2 separate regions of the Homo sapiens genome follow, and region 1 is linked to region 2. The links come from fine-mapping of genetic effects on gene expression. Tissue or cell type: whole blood. Region 2 holds a variant in brackets; the other region holds the start of a gene. All regions are shown on one strand. Distances are between the middles of the regions.

Region 1 (8,185 bases), 22 kb after region 2:
TATTTTTAGTAGAAACGGGCTTTCACCATGTTGGTCAGGCTGGTCTCGAACTCTTGACCTCAAGTGATCTGCCCACTTCGGCCTCCCAAAGTGCTAGGATTACAGGCGTGAGCCACCATGCCTGGTCTTCCTCTGGGATTTCTAAGCTGAAGGTAATAGATTCTTAGAGCTATCTGGATCCACATTCCTCCTTTCCCAGCTGCCGGAGTAAGTCTAGCTGCAGCAGTAAACCATTAAGCCAACTCACTAAAAGGGTAAGCATGGACAGATTGAAAGCCTTGATGCCAGATTTCCCTTGGGTTTCTCTGTTAAAAGAGTCAAGAAATTCCATTTCATGCAGTCTATTCTGAGTTATGTTTCTGTCACTAGCAATTAAAAGTATATGTTTGGCGGCACAGAGTCTCCTACTAGTTCATCAGCGAATCTTAAAAACACAGGGCAGCATATATTACGGTGGAGATGGACACATACTGCAAAAGCCCAACATTGTGTAGAAATAATTAGAAAAGATTTTCTAGGACAAAATGTGACTAAGCATGGACCATCAACGTATTGAACTTCATAAAAATGTGATACAAGTGTAGGCTATCACTATCCTCTTTTATGTTTAAATCCCATTGGTTTTATTAGTTGTTCTCAACCCTGATTGTACAACAGGATCCCTGCAAAGCTTTTTTTAAAAATGCACATACTGTAAAAGGAACAAACTATTGATAAACAACTTGGATGAATCTCAAGGGCATTGTGCTGAGTGAAGAAAGCCAATCTCAATGGGTTACATAATCTATGATTCTTTAGATAGCATTCTCAGTGATAAAATTATAGTGATAGAGAACAGATTAGTGGTTGTCAGGGGTTCAAGTTTGGGGAGAAGAGAGTGACAGCTAAGGGGTAACACGAGGGAGTTCCTTTGTGGTGATGGAACAGCTCCATGTTGTGATTGTGGTGATGGCACATTAATATACACACATGATAAATTTCATAAAACTCTATGCCGGGGGAAAAAAGTGTACATAAGGTCTGTACCTGAGTTAATAGTATTGTTTCAATGCCAGTGTTCCAGCTTTGACAAAGTGCCAGGATTATGTAAGATATCAATGGAAGCTGGATGAAGGGTACAGGGGAACTCTGATCTATTTTGCAACTTGTGAGTCTTAAACTATCTTGAAATAAAAAAGGTTATTTAAACGTGAAGGAAAAAATACACATGCTTAGTCCTGACCGTAGAGGTCCTAATTTAGTGGCTCTGTGTTAGATTAGTATTAAATCCAGTGGGTCTGTGTTTGGATATCTGTATTAATATTTTTTTTCAAAGTTCTATATAGTGCACTGCCAGGATTGAGAACTATCGTCCTATGAAATACTCACTAGCTCTTCTACGGACATTTCAAAATGCTTATAAAGAACAGACAATTTCAACTTTCTTTCTTTTTTAACTTAAAACAGTTCAATGACAAAGGTCACTGAATAGAAAAGATTAATTTCTAACAATAGATTTAACTTATCCACTTAAGGTTTGGGTTAGATATTCCATAAGGCATAAGGAATCAATCATTAAGGTATATCTAAGAATGGAGATACACTGTCCTGGGTATGAAAAGTCACTTTAGAGATCATAATGAATCATTCATACTAAGCACTTACTAAATGCTAAGAAACAATTTTGGAATTGATGTTTTTAGAAGATGATTCCAATTTGATCTCCCCCTACATTTTAGTTTTTTTTTCCAAACACCTCTGCTCTCCAGCTTCTTATATTTTCAAATATCAGGAGTGAAATGAAATCACCCTTAGTTTACCATTTTAAAGGAAGAGAGGATCAGAGAAGTATTGTGAGAGTTCTTAGGAAAATACCTACAAGGCTCAAGGTCAGACTGAAAACTCTTACGGGGATAAAAGAGAGATGGAAACCTATAGTACAATTTGATTTGCTTATTATATATACATACGTATGTACAGTAAACGTCCTCATGTTATCTATATGTATCTACTTTTATGCTACCAGCTACTATTTAAAGGTTATATAGTTTCTTTTACCCATTTATTAGGGTACTTTAAAATTTTTTTTTTTTTTTTTTTTTTTTGAGGCAGAGTCTCGCTCTGTCACCCAGGCTAGAGTGCAGTAGCACGATCTCAGCTCACTGCAACCTCCACCTCCTGGGTTCAAGCAATTTTCTTACCTCAGCCTCCCGAGTAGCTGGGATTACAGGCGCATGCCACCATGCCTGCTTAAATTTTTTTAGTAGAGACGGGGTTTCGCCATGTTGGCCAGGCTGGTCTTGAACTCTTGGCCTCAAGTGATCTGCCCACCTCGACCACCCAAAGTGCTGGGATTACAGGTGTGAGCCACTGTGCCCATCCAATTAGGGTGTTATTTAGAGATAATATTTCCTCTCCTACACATACTGAAAGGTGCTCAAGTATGGCCAAGGGCAAAATGAACTCACATTTACTATTATGTGCCAGGATTTATAATAGATACAAATACTTCATTAAAGTCTCATAACAACCTGTAAGATAGGTATTAGTATATTTATTTCCACATAAGGAAACAGATTGAGAGGCTAAATACCCTGCCCAATACATACAACTGTAAGTGGAGAAGCTGTATTCCAACCCATATTCTCCTCAAATATCCCTGTAGGGACAAGCAACTCTGAAGAGAAAAAAGCTGATAAAAGTCTATGTAACAGAAAGAATGACACATAAGGCTATGAAGCATTAGAACAAAGGAAAACGATAAAGTCACTTACCTAGTATGTCTTTGTGAGTGTAAAAGCGTGTCTTAAGTGGCTTGTATTCATGGATCCGTTTGAAGGTTTTTCCAAAAGGGGCTGGTGGAATTATTTTATTACAAACAGCACAGCAAACAAAGTTTTTGTAATCTGAATTTCTGATCATAGTTAAATTTCAGATGTCTTCTCCTACTTACAGTTAAAATAATCTTAGAATCAGAAAAAGTCGTTTCAAGAAAAGCTGAAAGTTTAAGAAAGCTGGAAGAGGTTCAGGGTTTTAGGATAATGCTAGAGGCTGGTAAGGATTAAATGGTTCAAGTGATTAGGCTGTGGTTATGTGTCTAACGTTAAAGAATGGTGCTAAAAGCCCCTGCCATAGAAGGTATGGGCACCAGATTTGGGAAGATTTAAGTAGTTGCTCCTTCCCAGACTCTAGCATTAAGTTGTTAACTTACTTGGCAACTGTTGCTAGGTAAGACAAGCTTTGCTCATAAAAGCAACTTCAAATAATGACAAAAGGGAGCATGATACAGCCATTCATTTTCCTGATACTTTCTATATTAGTTTCCTATTGCTGCTGTCTTACTCTGTTTTCTGTTGCTTATAATAGAATACCTGAAACTGGATAGCTTATAAAGAAAATGAAATTATTTCTTACAGTTTATGGAGGCTGAGAAGTCCAAGGTGGAGGAGTTGCATCAGGTAAGAATCTTCTTGGTGGTGGGAACTCACTGAAGATTCCTGAGGTGGTATAGGGTATGACATGGCCAGGGGCTGAGCTCACATGCTAGCTCAGGCCTCTCTTCCTCTTCTTATAAAACCACCAGTTCTCCTCCCATGATAATCCATCAATCCCTTAACCCATGAATGAATTCACTCACCCCTTAAAGGCCCCACTTCTCAATACTACCACGTTGGGGATTAAAGTTCAACATGAGTTTTGCAGGGGACAAATATTCAAACCATAGCACCACTGTGACAAACTACACAAACTTCATAGTTTAAATGTAACACAAATTTATCCTCTTGCATTTCTGGAGATCAGAAGTCTAAAATGAGTCTTAGGGGCTAAAATCAAGTTGTTAGAAGGGCTGGTTCCTTCTGCAGGCTTCAGAGGAGAATGTGTTTGCTTGCCTTTTCCAGCTTCTAAAGGCCATCCATATTCCTTGGGGTCATGGCCTTGCATCATATAGCCTTTTCCCCCAGTGCTTCCATAGTGACATTGTCTCTTCCTCTGATCTTCTGCCGTGCTTTAAAGACCTTGGTGATTATACCAGCCCCATCTAGATAATCCAGGATAATCTCCCCATCTCAAAATCCTAAACTTACCCATATCCGTAAAGTCCCATATTTACAGGTTCCAGAGATTAGGATCTGGACATTTTTGCAGGGAAGGAGAGCATTAGTCAGCCTACCACACTTTGTTTTAAATTAGTTTTTAAAGAATTAATTTCTTTTAAGGCCAGCAATGGAGGTAGCTTAATTTCTTTTAGGTTTTTAATAAACATGATGTGTTGGTGCCATGGTAATAAAACTGGGAAATATCATGGTATCTTGAAGAAGAAATTACTTTCATTAAGGCAGCATTCAAAATTACTAAGCCTGGTTTTAAAAATCACATGGTTAACTAATTTGTTCCTATAATTTTAGATAAACAGCCATAGAAATTCCACCTATCGCAAAAATCTGTGCAACTGATTGTACCAAGTAACTGAATTTATAAAATTGCCTGACAATGTCATATGCTGCATCTACTTGGCAGGACTATTTTATAATAAGTGAGTGCCATCAGTGAAATTAATTTCAACAACAGGACTCCCATAGGGCCCTGAGCTAAGTGTACCACAAGTTACTCTATAATTTATATTAACACATACGGCCTGATAACTGGCTGAAGACCTTAAGTAACTATCAAATTGTGCCAGATTTGACTTCAAGAAAAGGGTTAACTGGGACTTGGAGAGGAATTAAAAACAAAGAGATGAATTAGTATGAAGAATGAGGATTACTGCATCCACACAGTTAATTATCTGGATTGAGAACTGAGGCTACTTGTGCCAATAACTTTCCTATCTGTTACTAGAAATTCTTGCCCAGATGGAAGGATAACTAACTGGCCTTGATTTGCCTGGGACTGTCCCTGTTTTAAAACTGAAAGTCCTGAACTTCCTTAGTGTCTGGCAAATTGGAAGAGTTGGGCCTCCTATGGAAGATAAGGCTGTAAAACCAATAAATACTTTCAGTGTTTGCCTTAGGAAATCCTTGAAAAACAATTTATCAATTGGACAGCTTGCTGATCTAGGCAAACAGCTCTTCCATCAGAAGATTAGACTACTCCCCTGGGCAAAGAGTTCACTTAACATTTATTGAACAATAGTTTACTAATCAAGACTTGCTTCAAGATCTAATCTGTTCTGTCAGGTACCTTGCCCATTCTCAACCAGATTCCTGCATTGAAAGACCCTTCTTTAATCACTTGAACTCAGACTTCCAAAAGACTTTAATATCTTCCCCTGACCATCCCATTCTTAAATACAGCTAACTTTGTAAAAGTGGTATTTCCCTTTAGTGCAGTAGATTTAATAAGCTTAGTTTTGTTTGATCATCAGGTTGTTCTGATGGTCTTGTGAGGGAGCTGGCAGTTAACAGTCCTTTACATAATTCTGTTTTAAAGTACAGGAGTGTTTCTCTACTTAAGATCTAAACTTCTTATTTTTAAGGGCTAATGTGGCTGCTTTATTATTATGTGCACATTTACACATAGAAGGTGGTATAGTATGGTGAAAAGATCCCTAGACTTTAGAGCAAGAAGATACAGGTTCTACTCCTGACTGAGAATCTCCCTGATCTTTGGTAAATCTCTTAGCCATTCTCAGCCTATTGTCTTAACCATAAACTGACAGGATTGGATCAGGTGAAGTTCAATGTTCAGAATCTTTGGACTATTTGAAAGGTATTTTATTTTTGATGGTTATACCCTCATTCAACAAAGAAAGGATGAAAACATCAACACATAGGCAGGCAGCTGTTGACACTCAGCACACACAAAGACTGTCCTACAACTTGTAGTCACTCTGTAAAAAGTATCATAGTCAGGTACTTGTTCCTAAAATTCAGTATGATTCTTTCCACACACTACTTTTCACAGCTTTGTGCTTGACTGACTCTAGTTACTTTGGTTCATTCACATAGATCTTACATGACTCAAGTCTGCACCTTGTACAGTTTCTGTTGCCCTCCTGCACTGCAATCTCTTGACAGTTCACGCAACTAATAACTCCTCTGCCACCAAACATCAGCTTATTCTGTTGAATAGTAAAAAATTCTAAAAGATGGCAATGTGTCATTAAATGCATAAGTTAAAAACAGAAGAACCCTAGTTTTGTGATAGCCAAAATACACAGGGAAAACAAAAACAAAAGAGTCTTTAAAAGGGATTTTGTATCACTGAAGTGCATTTTAAACTATATGAAGTACATTATACAGACAGGCATAGCAAATACATATTTGGGGCTCAGTAGTAAAGATTTTATTTAGTTTCATGTAAATTCAATTAGCTAAGTTCTTTAATACCTACAAATCACACATAATTACATTTTCATGTACCTTACAAAACCATAATAAAGTATGACAAATTAAAAATAACATTATGATAAACTCTGCCTGTGCTGTTATTATTACTTGGTAATATTAATAGCGACTGAAGCAAGACTTCAGAGGTAAGATTTACTACTGAGGCCCAATGACAATGATTTGGAGAATTAGGTATATATCTAGAAATGAAACGGGTCCAGAACCCTTGTAAGAAAGATTTGAATTCTATAAGGCAGAATCTGGCCAGACACAGGGGCCTAGCCTTGACCTCTGTCCTAGGCCCCTGGGCCAGGTGCCAGGACAACCAAGGCCATTCTGCTTCTCACCTCCAGTGGGTACTGACCGTAGGGCTAGGCTTTGTTTACACTCATTTTTACCCCCATTTCTGTCCCCACTTCCATAAAAGACACTTCAAAATGCTGATGCTTCAGAGAATAAGAAACATTCTGAAAAGGAAAAAAACAAAAAGGCCTGCTGGCATATAAACTTCAAAAGAAAAAAAAGGTACAATAAGGAGACCTTATCTATTCCTTATCCATTGAGTAGTTGTAGTTTTTAAATAACTATAAGAACACTTGGTCTTATGTTTATAACATTACAGTAACATTAATTAACACAAATTAACATAAACAAAATTAATTAACATTAATTAACATAAACACTAAAATAGATAACATTTAGTTGTAGTCAAAATCATCATACCTCAGTAAAACATACTTTTTTTTTTTTTTTAAAGAAAAACTCCAATTACTCTGGGATATTCTTAATCCTTATTTTAGTAGCTGAGTGGAAGGATCTTTTCCATTAAAATAAAATTCTGTCCCAAAAATAGCTAAAATGGAAACTGAAATATATGAACCATTTGTGACACTATAAAAACTACTTGTCAGAGCCAACTCAGTTTCTCATATCTCATATTTTTAATATTGACTTCAGGCCTTAAAATTTCTATTTATCTTTCTTTAAAAATATAGGTTCTATGCCAGGGAGAACATGAACATTTCCTTTGCAAGTAGCAAAACACAAGTAAACTTTCACGACAGCTGCACCGGCATAATTCATCTTAAAATATTTAAAACATCATGCAAATTTAACAGCATGGGTACTTTTATTATACAGAATTTAATAATTAACAAAAACAACTTCCATTCTCATGGCACTTTTATAAGAGGTAAGGAAAGAAAAATATTATGACGCTCACTCTGTGGAAAAAGAATGAGATAATGGCTGCAGCTGTGAAAGGACAAAATTTACGACAGTTGTCTGGTTGCAACTGCTATCTTCTCTCTTCATTAGCATGTTCTAGAACAAGAAACATGATACTGTACACTCACAAGGTCTTTCATTTGAAGATTTCAGAACCTTTAATAAAGGTCCATCTGCACTAACCAGCACTACTAATCCCATTTGGATGTTTTCCGCCTCATATAACTGTGCCCCTCACTATCAATAGCTTCATAGAGGTCCTTTTTATTCTCTTGTATTGCATGTAGATAACCAATATATGCCACGCAAAGTGAAAGAGTTACCAATCCGAAAGCCATTACAGGTTTGTTCTGTCAAAGAAAAAAAAATTATAAAGCTTTAGTAAGACTAACAATTTGAGGAGACCCAAATATCGGTTGCACTTTCCTCCTGACATGCCACATCTTTATTACAACACTAGCATTACCATGGCAATATTTCAATTAAAATCATTTATTCAGTTCTTTATTCAATTAGCTAAGCTACTGATTATCTAGAGATTATAGAAGACTCTTGCTTCTCCTCTCCAGGCTTTCTCCCATCTACACCCTGGACATCTCAGACCTCTACTCTCAGGAAGGTGACAGCTGGGAAAGGAGTGGGGCAGGAAA
Region 2 (8,185 bases):
TTGTGGTCTGGGCCCAGGGATCCCCCTGCTTTGTGCAGCCTAGGGCCTTGGTGCCCTGCTTCCCAGCCACTCCAGCCATGGCTAAAAGGGGCCAAGGTATACCTTAGGGCATGGCTTCAGAGGATGCAAGCCCCAAGCCCTGGCAGCTTTCACATGGTGTTGAGTCTGCAGGTGCACAGAAATCAAGAATTGAGGTTTGGGAACCTTCACCTAGATTTCAGAGGATGTATGGAAACGCCTGGATGTCCAGGCAGAAGTTTGCTGCAGGGGCAGGGCCCTCATGGAGAACCTCTGCTAGGGCAGTGCAGAAGGGAAATGTGGAGTTGAAGCCCCCATACACAGAGTCCCCACTGGGGCACTGCCCAGTGGAGCTGTGAGAAGAGGGCCACATCCTCCAGACCCCAGAATGGTAAATCCACAGACAGCTTGCACTGTGAACCTGGAAAAGCTGCAGACACTCAACATCAGCCTATGAAAGCAGCCAGGAGGGGGGCTATACCCTGCAAAGCCACAGGGGCTGAACTGCCGAAGGCCATGGGAGCTCACCTCTTATATCAGTGTGACCTGGATGTGAGACATGGAGTCAAAGATGATTTTGGAGCTTTAAGATTTGACTGCCCTGCTGGATTATGGACTTGCATGGAGCCTAAGGCCCCTTTATTTTGGCCAATTTCTCCCATTTGGAATGGCTGTATTTACCCAATGCCTGTACCCCCACTGTATCTAGGAATTAACTAACTTGCTTCTGATTTTATGGGCTCATAGGCAGAACGGACTTGCCTTGTCTCAGATGAGACTTTGGACTGTGGACTTTTGAGTTAATGCTGAAATAAGACTTTGGGGGACTGTTGGGAAGGCATGATTGGTTTTGAAATGTGAGGACATGAGATTTGGGAGGGGCCAGGGGCAGAATGATATGGTTTGGCTGTGTCCCCACCCAAGTCTCATCTTGAATTGTAGCTCCCATAATTCCCACATATTGTGGGAGGAACTTGGTGGGAGATAATTGAACCATGGGGGCGGTTTCCCCTATACTGTTCTCGTGGTAGTGAATAAGTCTCACGAGATCTGATCGTTTTATAAGGGAAACCCCTTTTACTTGGTTCCCAATTCTCTCTTATCTGCTGCCATATAAGATGTGCCTTTTGCCTTCCGCTATGATTGTAAGGCCTCCCCAGCCACGTGGAACTGTGAGTACATGAAACCTCTTTTTCTTTATAAATTACCCACTCTTTGGTATGTCTTTATCAGCAGTGTGAAAACAGACTAATACAGTTGTCCAAGCTGGAGTGCAGTGGCAGGATCATGGCTCACCGCAGCCTCAACCTCCCAGGCTCAATCAATCTTCCCACCTCAGCCTCTTGAGTAGCTGGAACTACAGGTGCGCACCACCACACTCAGCTAGTTTTTGTACTTTTTGTAAAGACGGGGTTTCACCATGTTGCCCAGGCTAGTCTTGAACTCCTGGGCTCAAGCGATCTGCCCACCTCAGCCTCCTAAAGCACTGGGATTACAGGCGTGAGCCACCATGGCTGGCCTAAAACACACAAGCTTTAAATAAATCAGATGAAATCAGAGTTGGAGAAAGAAACCATCAGAGTGACTTCTTGGTAACATAAAAGTCCAGTGATTACTAAACTGCCCAACTCCTTGTGCTTTGTGACTAGGATGGAGGCTTCTCCATCTGTCCGAGTGATGCTATACATCTGTTTCGTAGTGCGCAAGTTCCTTTACTCCAAAAAGTTCATGTCTTGGTAGCATAAATTCCAGAAAATTAAACTGCAATGATTTCTTAGAGTCCTCAGTCTTAGAGGCCTTCCCAGTTGGCCTCCAGGAGTTAACACAGCTTCCTAATTACCAGAAACCATGTGAACTGCATGCACTCTTACTGTACAGGTAGCATCTAAGACAACTAAGAAAAATGGACTTCTTTAAGTTCTCTTTAAAGTAACTCTCTAAAATGCTTACAACTTTAATAATTTATATGGGGCATAGTATCTAAGATCTATAAAGGCCTCTCTAGGTATTGTACTCAAAGGAAACAGTATCCGGAGAGTTACTGTTCTCTTCTCAAATTATGCTAAAAATTGGTTCACTCAGGGAATCTTTTAAAAAATAGTCTGACTTAATCTCTGTCTCAGTCAAGTTTCAGTAGAAAACCAGGCGTGAGGGTCCCAATGAGAATTCAGAAACATAACTCACTTTCAATTTTCACTTGACTTTGCTATTCTCATCTTGCCACAGGCAATTAGTCTCTCTCCAGAACCCTGAGGGCAAATCTGTCCTTCCTGACATTAGGATGGTGGGAGGGAGCTACAGAGTGTACCCCTCCACACATTCACCCGTGGGGCTTGACATCAGGAGAGTACATCCAGTATGTTCAGAGAAGGGCGTCCAGTTCTGCTCCCCATCATTCTTGGCTCCCTGCCCATGTTTGCTGGAAGGATTAGGGTTCTGAAACCACTTTTGCAAAACTTATGACAGTGAGAGAAATCTAACATAGCAGACTCCATCTTGCTTCTAACCTCACAAGCTTATTGCCCTTGCTCATTCCTGAGTGCAGGCCAAGCTAACCATGGGAGGAATTTATTGTTTAACATTAAAGCGAAGAAGATAACAGCCCCTTCCCAAAACTACCCTCCTCCTAGTTCAGGGACTAAAACCACCTTTGTAAAATGAATGAAAGGCCAAAAGGTTAGAATTATGGGAGGAGCTTGAATTCTGCTAAGACCTATGCATAGTTCAGTGATAACCAGCCATGTTCCCTAGCTTGCTTACTACTCAGGAGTCATGTCGCCAGAGGTCACAAGAGTTGTAACTTTCCCAATTGTTCCTACAGATAACATCACTATTGTAAAACCTAAGATTGTTCTTTGAGATATTTTTCAGATGTTTGCATCCTGATGAACTGACACCACTTGGACCCATGACTCATACCAAGGAAATAAATCAACTGGTCCTGTAACTCCCACCCAGAAGCTGACTCGGCATGCGAAGACAGTTCCAACACTCCTGTGATTTCATCTCCAACCAATCAGTAGCACCCATTCCCCAGCCCCCTGCCTGTCAAATTATCCTTTAAAAACCCTACCCTCTGAGTTCTCAGAGAGGTGGATTTGAGAAATATCTCCCATCTTTTTTTCTTTTACAACTGGCAAATATAGATGAGTCTGTAGCCATACCAGACCCATGTGGCCCAACTTTCACGTAACAAAGTAGTACAGTGTTTTTCAGTTGCCATGGACCCTCAGGTCATGTAATCTGAGCATGCCCAGATGGACCAAGTGTTCAACCACAGAGGGAACCTGATTGCTCTGACTCAGGAGTGGGAACTGAATTAAGAAGTGGACACTGCATGGCAGGATCCAGAATCCAACTGGATTGAGCTTTGGCATCACCCCATGGCAGGATCCAGTTAGATCATGCCTCCTGACATCCCCTCATTGCAAGACCCAGTCAGATCATGCCTCATTACCCTATGTTTATAAAACCTGACCCAGCCCCCAGCTCAGGCAGACACTGCTTTGGGGACTATCCCTGGTGTTCTCCTTACTCCTTATAAGTAATAAAATCCCCTTGCTAAATCTTCTTTGGTTGTGGTCATTGAGTTGACACCCACCAAGTGACTGAACCTGCTTGTTGTGTGGGTAGCAAGTCCTTCCTGAATTACTTTATATGGGAGTCCCAGAATTTAAATTTTATCCTACTGAATTTGAGAGAAATTGCTTTTTTAAATTCACAATGCTACTGCATTCACCAAATGATAAACTGTCTACTGGAACTTAGCACACCTGCCCAAAACAGGAACAACCTAAGAACACTTTCCTTTACTTGTTTTCTATGGCAATAAATGCTGAAATAATTAATTATATGTCTGATGTAGAAATGAATAAAGACAGATACAGAAGTGTGTTTAGGCTTCATCCAAGAAACCTTTCCCCTCTTAATCAGTTTGCTACCTCTCACTATTTTTTCTTCTCAGACTTGGCTCAATATAATCTGGAATGTGCTTTTTAATATTTTGGTTTTCCATGAAAATTCTTATAGCCCAATAGTACCCTGCACAAGGCTGGGGAATCAATACATGGTTTTTGAGTAAATTTATTTAGTCTGGAATGATGTCTTTTGTAGTGGAATTTCAACT[G/A]AAGACTTCTAATCAAGAGTTGTTTTGTTCTCCTTAATAACAAGATTAGAAGGTGTTTTCTTTCTTTCTGGCAGAATAAAATCTGCATGTCCTGGTGAAAGCTTAGGAAAGGTATAATTGATGTATTTTTGAAATGCCATCCTGGTTTCCTGTAATTCCTCCTCTAGGAAATCTTTCCAATTTGTCATGATTCCCAGTTGTTTTGCTATAGACAGCAGCTCCCCCTGGGTGTTAGCCAGTTTATCCATCATATTGCCAAGAGTGGCCTGATGTGTTTTCTCTGCTTCTTGAAGCACTTCCTGTACCTCTTCTTGCCTCTGCCTCTGAGCTATGCCATAGAGGATGCTCATTTCATGTTCTTTTTCCCTCATCAGTCGGGCCACACTGGTCTTCTCATCCTTAATAACTGTGACACCAGTATTCACAATTTCCTCCACGGCTTTGCTACAAAAGATAATATGGATTTATAATTTAGATGGATTGGCCACTAAAAACAAAATAATTTCATCTTTAAACGCAGATGAATGAGCAATTGTTGAGATGAGCCACCAGCCTGAGACAGGCTGATACGGATGAGCTTTTGGATTGCATTAGCTGTTATCAAACAAAACACATTTTCAGAGCAGGGAGGCTTCCTATGTACTTCCCTGCTGTGGGCTAGGGTGAGGCCACTAGTCTAACTTCTAACGGCAACTTTAGGAACCTGAGATCACCTTTTTCAGGAAAATATACATGCATTGTGCTTAAAAATGAGGAGATAAGGGTCAGAGTTCCAAACTCTGTAGAGAAAGTATTTCTTTATATTAATCCAGCTGCTGACCTTTAGCCAGAGATGAAAAATCCTTATACTCACAGGATAGATTTAGCTTTAATCTTGATTTTATCTGAGCAATACTCTATGACAGTCACCTCAAGCTTTTTGGTCTCGGGAGCTCTTTACAGTCTCAAAATTATCGAGGAAGCCAAAGAGCTTTTGTTTATATGAGTTATAGGCATTGACATTAACAGTTATATAAACTAAAAGGGAGACATTTTTAAAATATTAAAAATCTCTTATGAAAAACATTTTCCCAAACAATGAAATATTTCATGAGAAGAATGGTATAATTTAACTTTTTTTTTGAGACAGTGTCTTGCCGTCACCCAGGCTAGAGTGCAATGGCCTGGCCCTGGCTTACTGCAACCTCCAGCTCCCAGGTTCAAGTGATTCACATGCCTCAGCCTCCAGAGTAGCTGGGATTACAGGTGTGCACGACTACACCCAGCTAATTTTTGTATTTTTTAGTAGAGATGGGATTTTACCATGTTGGCCAAGCTGATCTCAAACTCCTGACCTCAAGTGATCCACCCGCCCTGGCCTCCCAAAGTGCTGGGATTACAGGTATAAGCCACTGTACCCAGCCTAATTTTTTTTTTGCACAACTCTTTAATCTCTGGCTTATTAGCAAAAAGCTGAATTTTCATACTGTTTCAATTTATTGTGATATCACACATCACAAAACCCCTGGAGAACACCATTTTATATTCATAGGAGACTAAGAGTGAAAAAGGCAAATAAAGTCTTAGTGTTATGCTGCTATAAAGACACATGCACACGTATGTTTATTGCGGCACTATTCACAATAGCAAAGACTTGGAACCAACCCAAATGTCCAACAATGATAGACTGGATTAAGAAAATGTGGCACATATACACCATGGAATACTATGCAGCCATAAAAAATGATGAGTTCATGTCCTTTGTAGGGACATGGATGAAATTGCAAATCATCATTCTCAGTAAACTATTGCAAGAACAAAAAACCAAACACTGCATATTCTCACTCATAGGTAGGAACTGAACAATGAGAACACATGGACACAGGAAGGGGAACATCACACTCTGGGGACTGTTGTGGGGTGGGGGGAGCGGGGAGGGATAGCTTTAGGAGATATACCTAATGCTAAATGACGAGTTAATGGGTGCAGCACACCAGCATGGCACATGTATACATATGTAACAAACCTGCACATTGTGCACATGTACCCTAAAACTTTAAGTATAATAATAATTTTTTAAAAAATTTGGAAAAAAAAAAAGAAAATAGTTTTAATGTCATGGACTGCCTCTTTAAAGAGTCTCAGGGACCTTGAAGGGTCTCTGGACCACATATTCAGAAGCACTGCTAAATGATTAATATACTTCTGGCTATAATGTAGGGTATTATATAAAATTCATAGCAGCCAACCATGTTGACCTCTTACCATGTCCAAGCAGGTTAATGAGCATTCTATGCATACATTAATTCAATGAATCCTCAAAAACAATTCTGTAGTGTGGTTCCATTACTGTGCTCTTTTTATGAAGAAGACATTGAGCTCAGGGAGGTTAAGTAATTGGACTAAGTTTGTTTAATAAGTTAAAGAGGCAAAATCTGCAACACAACTCAGGCAGTCTGAGACCAGGGCAAAAGCTCTTAGCCACTGTGATACATTTCCAGTGGATTTCTGCAGTTAACATAGTTTGAGCAGAACCTCAAAGATTTGAGGTTTTAAGATCTCAAATGTATGGCTGTTAATAAAAATCCTCCCCCTCTGCCTCCCAGTCTAATACAGGCTTTCCAAGATTTACCACTGGCCCTATCTCCTAAATTCCATCCTCCAAGATGCAATTCTCTCATCTTCTCTGAGTCTTTCCACTTGACTTTCAAACCTGACAGACTTCCCTAGTCTTGAAGTAAATCACATCTTTCTTTAGCCTCCGTAGCCACTATACTATTTCTCTTCTTCCTTTTCCCACCAACTAAGCTATTTCCAATATTAATAACAGGGGTAATGATTATTGAGTACTTACTGTATTGCAGGAACTGTGGTGAGCATTTTACATGCACGATATCTCATTTAATTTTCACAATAACCCATTGAAGCTGATACTTTATTTACTTATTTACAGATGAATCTTGCTCTGTTGTCCAGGCTGGAGTGCAGTGGCACCATCTTGGCTCACTGCAACCTCCGCCTCCCAGGTTCAAGTGATCCTTCTACCTCAGCCTCCCAAGTATCTGGGATTACAAGTGTGCACCCCCACACATGGCTAATTTTTGTATTTTTAGTAGAGGCAGGGTTTCACTATGTTGGCCAGGCTGGTCTTGAACTCCTAACGTTAAGTGATCCACCCGCCTTGGTCTCCCAAATTGCTGGGATTACAGGTGTGAGCCACCGTGCCTGACCTATTTTTACTTATAACCTGTGACTATTCCCTTGTAACAGGTGAGAAATGGAGGCTTAGAGAAGAGTGAGTTGTTGTTCAATGTCACACAACTGAGCACGCTGGGGAGTTCCTGCCCTTAATCATTACCTGCTTCAAGCTCATGAGTGGGCACTATACATTTTTCGTCAGGAGGGTAGCACAGTAAAAATAACATTTTAGACTTGTTATTCAGGTAACAGTGAGTGAACTGAATCTTAGTGGGGTGAGCTAGAGAGACCAATTGTATCATTTCATAATATCCTTGAGGTGCAATGATGAGGGTCTGAACTAATGACAAAAGAGAGGGTTGGGAAGAGGGAGAGAATGGGTTAAGCCTAGGAAATATTAAAAAGTCATAGCTGCCAGAATCTGTGACTGCAAGCATATGGGAGAAGTGGGAAAAAGAGGAATCAAAACCAACTTGCTGATTTTCAACCCGGGTCACAGGAGAATGGAGGTTCCATTAATAGAAGTGATGCTGTGTATAGAGTGGGCAGTGTGCATCGACACACATTCTAAGGATTTAGTCTGATGTCTGATAACATCCTCAGGCTGTTGATGAGATTGTCAGGGTGATGACCAGGGACCAATCTCCAAGGAGGAAGCTGTGCTCCCTGTGTCCTCTGACATAAGCAGGCATGAGTTTCCTGCCAGGTGGGGCTGACTTTCCTCTCACCCAAATGGGAGGTTTCATTTATGGGCTAACTGGAAGGCTCTACCAGAATTGAGTCAGGCAAAAGTGATCCAATAATGTATATCTTGGATGACGCCAGCTCCCACCCTCAATGACAGTCCCTTTCAGACTCCCTGAT

What was found. PIP is the estimated chance that this variant, and not a neighbour inherited with it, causes the effect.
Region 1: it holds the start of C6orf163, and the variant in region 2 is fine-mapped to the expression of C6orf163 in whole blood (TOPMed, PIP above 0.99). The same link has a PIP of 0.9 or more in unexposed skin.

The regions. Positions count from the first base shown.
Region 1 is chr6:87,339,816-87,348,000 of GRCh38, reverse strand. It overlaps C6orf163 (chromosome 6 open reading frame 163), which reads right to left and starts at 3,188. Exons shown (of 5, transcript NM_001010868.3): 1 at 2,754-3,188. The coding sequence starts at 2,901. SMIM8 (small integral membrane protein 8) reads right to left here. Exons shown (of 4, transcript NM_001042493.3): 4 at 5,672-7,885. The coding sequence ends at 7,727.
Region 2 is chr6:87,361,364-87,369,548 of GRCh38, reverse strand. It overlaps C6orf163 (chromosome 6 open reading frame 163), which reads right to left. Exons shown (of 5, transcript NM_001010868.3): 5 at 4,086-4,588. The coding sequence ends at 4,153. Among named protein-coding and RNA genes, the nearest start is that of C6orf163, 21 kb to the right of the region's middle. The variant G/A (reference allele first, on the strand shown) is at 4,145.